Linked DNA regions of Homo sapiens: regions 2 and 3 are each linked to region 1. Evidence: fine-mapped expression QTL. A gene starts in region 1. Each other region holds a variant in brackets. All regions are shown on one strand. Distances are between the middles of the regions.

Region 1 (2,766 bases):
CATATTTCAATCAGTGATATGTGTTTTTCTAGGTATCTTTTTGGCATATTTTTAAGAAACACATTTCGAAAATTAAATGTAGGTGTGAACCCTTCGCCACACCCAAAGAACCATTCTTGACACTCATGCAGAACATTTTATGCCCCAGTTTGAATATCTGACTTTGGTTTATCTCACTGATACCTGTAGCCCCTCCAAAGTAGTGGTAGACAGAGCTGAGACAAGAAATTTCACAGCTTTTTCCTATTGTGGAACAAACAATCTGAGTTTAAAACATATTGACTTACTGAATTAAAGTAAGTCACTCCACCTCTTAAAGACTCAGTCACACATCCAATTTTCCAGGGGCCTGTGGCCACTGAGTGTCACAGAGTGTGGAAGGCTGTAGGGGCCAGTCCAGAGGAGAGACCACATGGCCTGATTGCCCAGTAGAAATTGATATTCACAAAAGAATGCTGGCTCAAAAAAATAAATTGAAAAAAAAAAAAAAACCCCAGCAACACAGTGAACAGGTGGCTTAGTATGGCTGGCCGTGCTTGCACTTTTTAATGACCTGATTTGTTTCCAAAATTTGTTTTAGGTAATGTATTAGTCTGTTCTCATGCTGCTGTAAAGAACTACCCAAGACTGGGTAATTTATAAAGAAAAGAGGTTTGATTGACTCACAGTTCCACAGGCTGTACAGGAGGCATGGCTTGGGAAGCCTCGAGAAATTTACAATCATGGCGGAAGGCAAAGGGGAAGCCAGCATGTCTCACATGGCAGGAGCAGGAGGAATAGAGAGCAGGAGGAGGTGCTACACATTTCAAAAAGCCAGATCTCATGAGAACTCACTCACTATCATGAGAACAGCAAGGGGGAAGTCCGCCCCCATGATCCAGTCACCTCCCACCAGACCCCTCCTCCAACACTGGGATTACAATTTGACATGTGATTTGGGTGGGGACACAGGGTCAAACCATATCAGGTAACAAAACTCCAGTCTCAAAAATGGTAAGTCAATTTTATTGCTATTATAATTCTTAAAACTGGTGTTGATGATGATGATGATAGCAGTTATTTGTACAGTAACATGCCCAAGACAAATCCCAAGAGAGGAACATAAACAAAATCAAGTGGGGAGATTTGACTTTGCCCAAGTTCTTCTCAACTAGAAATTTCTAAAGGTGTTTTGTGTGGAGTGCTGCGCTATGTGCAGTTTTCAGCTATTCAACCTCAAGGATGTCAAATTGTTGGAAGAGATTCAAAGAAGGATAATCAAACTTGGATGGAGCTGACTTAAAGAAATGGGCTAACCTCCAGAAAGAATGCCATTGAATCCAGAGAGAGGTGCCGTTGAATCAGCCCTTGCTGATGAAGCCTCTTCACTGTACTGCTCAGACCTCTCCATCCTGGTGGCAAGGGCTTAGACCATTATTCATGGTCTGACTGGCCTCGAGGTGGCTGTCTCGCCTTTGAAAAAGGGCAGACACAGAGCATGTTCAGAGCACGGAGCCATACTGTGCGATTTCTTCAAAGAGAGCTTAACCACAGGTTTGTCACAGACTCCTCTTGCTCCTTCCTTCCAATTTAGTCCTTAAATGTGGTCCAACTACAACAAGAGGGAAGTCTCACAATCTAGAATATTGGGGGTTTTGTCACTATTCATTTTTATTAATAGAAAACAAACCTTTATTCCAAATTTGTTATACTTGAAATTGCTAATTTAAAAAAATGAATTTAGGGCTGAGGTGGGAGGATCATTTGAGGCCAGGAGTTCGAGACCAGTCTGGACAACATAGTGAGACCCTGTCTCTAAAAACACTGGAAAAACAGTTAGCTGGGTATGGTGGCAGGTGCCTGTAGTCCCAGCTACTCAGGAGGCTGAGGCAGGAGGATCACTTGAGCCTAGGAGTTGAAGGCTGCAGTGAGCTATGATAGTGCCTCTGCACTCCAGCCTGGGTGACAGAGCAAGAAACTGTCTCCAAAACAAATATATTGAATTGAAAATAATCACGTAATAATCTTGCTTTGACTAAGACAATGAAACTGTGGCTTTTAAAAAAAAAGTATTTTAGCACCATATGCTCATTTGTCTTTCAGAATTTGGATTAATGAATGACGTAACTGCTTCAGGGCAACACACCCTCACTGCAGCTGCTTAGCCCAGGAAGCAGCAAGGTCAATACAAGGAGAGCCACAGGCCTGGGGAGATGCATGCCTTCCTTCCTGGCCACGTGGATCTCACTACTTAGCCCAGATGGCCTGCGAGAAGGACAAAGCCAAGCACTTCACAACACTGTCAGTTGCTGTCCTGAAGAAGGTGGCCAGGAGCTCTAGAAGGATTCAAAGCCCCAGGGATTTTTGGTTTTTATGTATACACTTCTCTTTACATACTTGTTCCTCAACATCCAATCAGCCTTGCAGGTTTGTCCCCGCTCCTAGCATTCAGAAACACTCAAGAGCAGGGTGGGTCAGAGCTCTCCACCACATACGCAGCAGAGTGAAAGAAGCTGCCCTGCAGGACAGCTCCAGGCTCATGGCCACCCCTCCTCACATGCATACCTCCTCCTCTTCCACCAAACAACAACAAACTCCTTCATGTAGCATTCACGCCCTCCTCTTGTGGCCTCTACCTGCCATCCCACACCAATCCCTTTTTATGTCCCCACAGGTACCCAGGAGTCTCCCCTAACTAAATTCCCCACTGCTTCTCCAAATCACCCCAATCCTACTTCCCACTGAAACTAACAAGAAGGGAAGGAAGGTGTTAACAAATGAAGTCTT
Region 2 (2,766 bases), 670 kb after region 1:
TACACTGTTGGTGGGACTGTAAACTAGTTCAACCGTTGTGGAAGTCAGTGTGGTGATTCCTCAGGAATCTAGAACTAGAAATGCCATTTGACCCAGCCATCCCATTACTGGGTATATACCCAAAGGACTATAAATCATGCTGCTATACAGACACACGCACATGTATGTTTGCTGCAGCACTATTCACAATAGCAGACTTGAAACCAACCCAAATGCCCAACAATGATAGACTGGATTAAGAAAATGTGGCACATATACACCATGGAATACTATGCAGCCATAAAAAATGATGAGTTCATGTCCTTTGTAGGGACATGGATGAAGCTGGAAACCATGATTCTCAGCAAACTATCTCAGGGACAAAAAACCAAACACTGCATGTTCTCACTCATAGGTGGGAATTGAAGAATGAGAACACATGGACACAGGAAGGGGAACATCACGCACTGGGGCCTGTTGTGGGGTTGGTGGGAGGGGGGAGGGATAGCATTAGGAGGGTTCAGCACACCAACATGGCACATGTATACATATGTAACTAATCTGCACGTTGTGCACATGTACCCTAAAACTTAAAGTATAATAAAAATAAAAATAAAAAAATAAAAAATAAATAAAAATATAAAATTTTTTTACTGCCAGTAGCTTATTTTCCCGTATTAGGCCCCTATTCCACATACTTACATGAGACAAGCCATTGTCTTTTACAGAGTTTGAGGCTTTAGTCTGCACCACAAAAAGGGACCAGAAGTGAGAGTCAATCTAAATGAGTACAGGACTAAAGAGCCTTCAACAAAACACTTCAGCCACATCAAGACCACAGTGACGTCTAGGTAAATTCCATTGCCCTTCTTCAAAAAGTACATCAGTATATCAGTCAGGTGGGCAAAAGAAGAATAAACCCTTCATAGCACTCTGCATAGCTTAGAAGCCTCTGTATAACAGAGTGGTTGGTGGAACTTGGGCTGCTGGTCCAAAACTTGACCCATCCTTGCCTGTTTTCATGCAGTAACTCTCAGAAGAGACAGGTTTTAGAAGTTTACTTCCACACAGCTACAGGCTGTGTCTCCAGGATCATGGTGACAATGACAGTATCAGCTCAGGACCATCTATTTGGAGTCTGTAAAAGGCCTCGTATAGGAACACATGAGTGAACTGCAGATTTATAACCAGCCCCAAGACCAGGAGGCAGCACAGCACGTGGCCATGCACTGGGAGCTACAACATGGCACACACACTGGGAAGGTCAGTCCTCCATGATACAAGGTTATAACTGGCCAAGCTTTTCATGTGACAGCAGTCTGCCACTGGCAATCCACAAGGTGCCAAAGGCTAAAGGCCACCTAGGAAATCAGCTTCATAAAACATGGATATTCAGACTCAGGGATAAAAAGTTCTACACAGTGGCCAGGGTTTGGCCTCAGAAATACTGGGAGGGGGGCATGTTTGTGGAGAAGAGCAGATGAACTAGTCTCACAGAAGTTTGTTTATGGAATCCTGAATGGTCTGGGCCTCAAGTTCTAAGAAGATTGTAATTCCGTCCCCTCCTTCCTATAACCTGGGCCCCTATGATGGCACAGTTTCCAGTCCCAGTTGGGAG[GC/C]GAGTTCCTCGTTTTTGGTATCCAAATAATCCTATTCACAAGGCCACATACTTTAAAGACAGGGACCTATCCCTGAAGGCAGGCAGCATAGCCTTTAAATTTGTTTAAATTCAAGCAAAAACTTTTTAAAAATTTGGTACTCAGTGGCCAATTTTTTTTATTTAGCACTGTATATCCAAAATCTAGCACAAATGCCTGCTATATATAATGAACTCTTCGATAAATATTTGTTAAATAAATGAATGAATGAATTCTAAGGGCAGTCCTGGAAGTGGACAGATAGATGGGGAGTGGGCTGCTGTGCAACAGACTAGGACAGAAAAAGTACTAGAGGCAGCAGGTTGAAGGTTACTGAGCAGGAGCACTATGTTTTCCGAGTCATGGATCTTCAGTAAGGGCAAGGGGAACATGGTAACACCAGGCACAGCAAATGATCATGACACCCTGACTGAAAGTCCGACACAGCTCTTTGGATGACAAGTGCCCTCTCCCAACCTATTGATAGTGTCTATTAACCACCTCGGACCCTTTGATGAAACTGATCTATGTCCTGGGACTCCCCTGGTCTGGTTTTGCAAGCAAGTCCTAGGTTCCCAGAGCTCCAGAGTTGGCAGAAGAACCGAGGACATGCTCACTGGGTCTTGCCTTACTTTAGAAAGCCCATTTGAAAGATTTCTGGAAGGCTACTAGTGAAGGTGGAGACACCGGTTCTGTTCTTCTTCCACACCTTATCTTCACCCCAAGATTTTCGTCTAGCTACAAAAGGACCAATGGTTTCTTACGCCCTAAGACTTTGGTGTGAGGAAGCCAATAATAACCTTAAGAGCTATTTCTCTGGGTTAGTCTTGGAAAAGATGCTATATCACTAAATAAAAAGATAAATATGAAACACCCACAGAAACAAAGATAAGATATTTCATTTCTAAAAGCCCCTAATTTCTAAGATAGAAAAAGGAATATGAATTTTAAACTTAACATAAATTATCAGCTTTCAGAGTATAAAGCCATCTAAATTGTACTTAAATCAGTTTTAAAAGGCAAAAAACACAACCACTTAAATTGCATTAATATGGCATCATTTTAGAGTGCTATAAAATATTTTAACTAATATAAATGTTAAAATATGAGGTTTGCTGCTATCAGTCATCTAAAAATTATGTAAGCAAAG
Region 3 (2,766 bases), 65 kb before region 1:
TATTGCAATTCCCCTGCCTTCATAAATTAGCTCTATCTGGGCAGTGGACAAGAAAAACCCACTGGGTGGTTATAAAAGCAGGCCAACTGGAGACAAGCCAAGTCCGTGACCTAGGAACTGTAGAATCCAGTTTTGGAAAGCACCCTAGGTATCTATTTTAACCATTACCCAATGCATAACTAAATGTACATGTAGAGATGGTTTATGAAGAGTCAATAACTATTATGATAGGCCCAGCTTATCTGTCTGTTATTTGATTCTCTTCCCTTAATGCTTAGTCCTTAATGTGGAGATTGTTTTACAGTTGTCAAAATCATCTTTCTCCTTTTCTTTTTTTCCTTCCTTCCTTCCTCTCTTTCTCCTTCTCTCTTTCCTGTTTCTCTTTCTTTTCCTTCCTTCCTTCCTCTTTCCACAAACATTTGTTGAGTGCACACTATATTGGTGTTGTGTAGGAAAATAACACATAGCTCTTGCCCTTAGGTGTTTATAGTTAATTACAGGGAAAACCATCTTTTAGTTTTTACTTTTTCAACATGTGGTGATTAAGTGCAGAAAGAGCAAGTAAAAATGTAAGATGAGGAGCTTAAATCTTCCTGTCGAAAATAAGGGAAGAAATTTCTCCACTCCTTTTTTCTCTTTCAGAATGTTTTCCCTGGCCGGGCGCGGTGGCTCACGCCTGTAATCCCAGCACTTTGGGAGGCCAAGGCCGGCGGATCACGAGGTCAGGAGATCGAGACCATCCTGGCTAACATGGTGAAACCCCATCTCTACTAAAAAATAAAAAAAATTAGCTGGGAGTGGTGGTGGGCGCCTGTAGTCCCAGCTACTGGGGAGGCTGAGGCAGGAGAATGGCGTGAACCCAGGAGGCGGAACTTACAGTGAGCCGGCGATTGCACCACTGCACCTCCAGCCTGGGCGGCAGAGCGAGACTGTCTCAAAAAAAAAAAAAAAAAAAGTTTTCCCTGTCCTTTTCTATGTATGTGAATCTTTTTAGTGGCTAAATAAGCCTCTGGGCTACCTCACAATCTGGAGTGTTTCTTCAAGGACCTGGACGTCCTCTCTTCCTTGATGTAATCATCAAGGAAGCTAAGGCTTTAGCTTCCGGTTTCCTAAGAGGAGAGGGGTGTAACTTCAGTTGTTGTCTGACTCCAAATTGCAAAGCCTAACTAATGGTAATGGGTTGTATCCCCTTAGCTATAAAAGAGTGAGAGTTCTTTCTGGTCTTTGCCATTTCTTTAGCAGATTGCCTGTAATGTGCATCACTTTCTGGTTTAATGCTTATTTAATAATAAAATAGTTTTCCTTTTACCTTTGTAGAAAGCTTTTCTGGGTTAGGAGGACATTTCGTTTTTAATTATATTTTCCCAGGAGTGCTCACTATGTGCCAGGCACTCTTCCAGGCACCAGAGATATAGCATTAAATAAGACAGAAGCTGCCCTCATGAGCTCATATTCTAGGACAGATAGACAC[T/C]GAACAGTAAGAATAATATCTAAGGAAATCATGCAGGCAGCACATTAGAAGGCGGGGCGGGGGGGGGGTGGTAAGTGCAGTAAGCCATGTGTAAACAATCGAGTGTGATGAGCTGTGTAAAGAACAGTGGGAGTTTAAAGGAGAGAGAGGTAAGTTATCCTGGGGCAGTTGAGGACTTGATGTTTGAGCTGAATCTTGAAAGATGAATGGTTTTGAAAATAGCTCATTGCTTTAGGGGAGGAGTGGAGCTGGTATTCTAGGAAGTGGAAGATATTTGATCAAAGAAATATACATGACAGCAGAGTACATTAGGGGAAGTCTGCATAATCAGCATCTCATTTGATACCATCAACAACCAGAGGCAGAGATTTTTTTTCTTGTTCTTCCTTTTTCTCTCTTCTCCTGCTCCTTTCTCCTACTCTCTTGTAATGATTCATACTGTTGACACATATTGAGTTTACTATCAGCTAAAATCTTTAAACTTTTTCACACACATTGTTCCTGAGTCATAGCACCCTAATCTGTACTTGTTGGCATACGTTTTATTCTCGGTAACCTTGTAGGAGTTTGTGTGTGTGTGTGTTGTGTATTGAAGAAGAGTTGGAGAAGAGACCGAAGTAGTTAGGCTGAATAAAATAGAACTCTGGAAATGATGACAGGCATCTCCCATACTTAAAGGTCTATCATAGGAAGAGAAATCCATTCTTTTTTTTCTATGTGATTGTTAGAACTAGTGGGTGGTACTTTAGGGATATAGATTTCTACTCTATGCCAAGAAAAGCTTTTAGAAGTTGATTTCAGAATTGACCAGGTACATCTCTAAAGAAATCCCTTGGGGAGAGGGTGAGGTCTTGGAAAAAATACAGACTCCTGGGCCCCATCCTTGACTTACATCACAAATCTTGTTACCAGGGACCAGGAATTTGCATAACAGGCTCTCAAGGAAATCCCTAGGTACACTGAAATTTGAAAACTTCAAGAGAATTAACATACCTTTTCTTTGAGAGCCCTTTCAACCTGGGGAAACTTTGATCCTATGAGACCCTAGAAAGGGGAACCACAGAACATTCATTTTCTTTGGGGTGTGGTGAGTCTGATGACTGTGTAACTAGGATGATTATTGAGAACTGAAACTAAAGTCCTTAGCTCCCCAGTCAACTGAACAGGCTGCCTCTTGGCCAAGAGGACCCCAGAGAAACCTTTTAAAAACTGAGTTTCTGGCCATCACAGGACGAGAGGTCAGATGCACCTCTTTATCTTCCCTCCCTTTTGTGGTTTAGACACAACATCTGACC

Direction of the effects. Positions count from the first base shown, and alleles are read on the strand shown. Sizes are in standard deviations (SD) of each study's normalised expression. Not every link is listed here.
As copies of GC replace C in region 2, the expression in lymphoblastoid cells of the gene that starts at base 1,363 in region 1 goes down (large effect, 1.1 SD a copy in GTEx).

The links. PIP is the estimated chance that this variant, and not a neighbour inherited with it, causes the effect.
Region 2: its variant is fine-mapped to the expression of LINC01050 in lymphoblastoid cells (GTEx, PIP 0.95).
Region 3: its variant is fine-mapped to the expression of LINC01050 in monocytes (Quach 2016, PIP 0.94).

The regions. Positions count from the first base shown.
Region 1 is chr13:42,811,159-42,813,924 of GRCh38, reverse strand. It overlaps LINC01050 (long intergenic non-protein coding RNA 1050), which reads left to right and starts at 1,363. Exons shown (of 3, transcript NR_125747.1): 1 at 1,363-1,533; 2 at 2,083-2,406.
Region 2 is chr13:42,138,759-42,141,524 of GRCh38, reverse strand. The region is part of intron 3 of DGKH (diacylglycerol kinase eta); the gene reads right to left. Among named protein-coding and RNA genes, the nearest start is that of DGKH, 91 kb to the right of the region's middle. The variant GC/C (reference allele first, on the strand shown) is at 1,598.
Region 3 is chr13:42,876,222-42,878,987 of GRCh38, reverse strand. No RefSeq gene overlaps it. Among named protein-coding and RNA genes, the nearest start is that of LINC00428, 4.9 kb to the right of the region's middle. The variant T/C (reference allele first, on the strand shown) is at 1,472.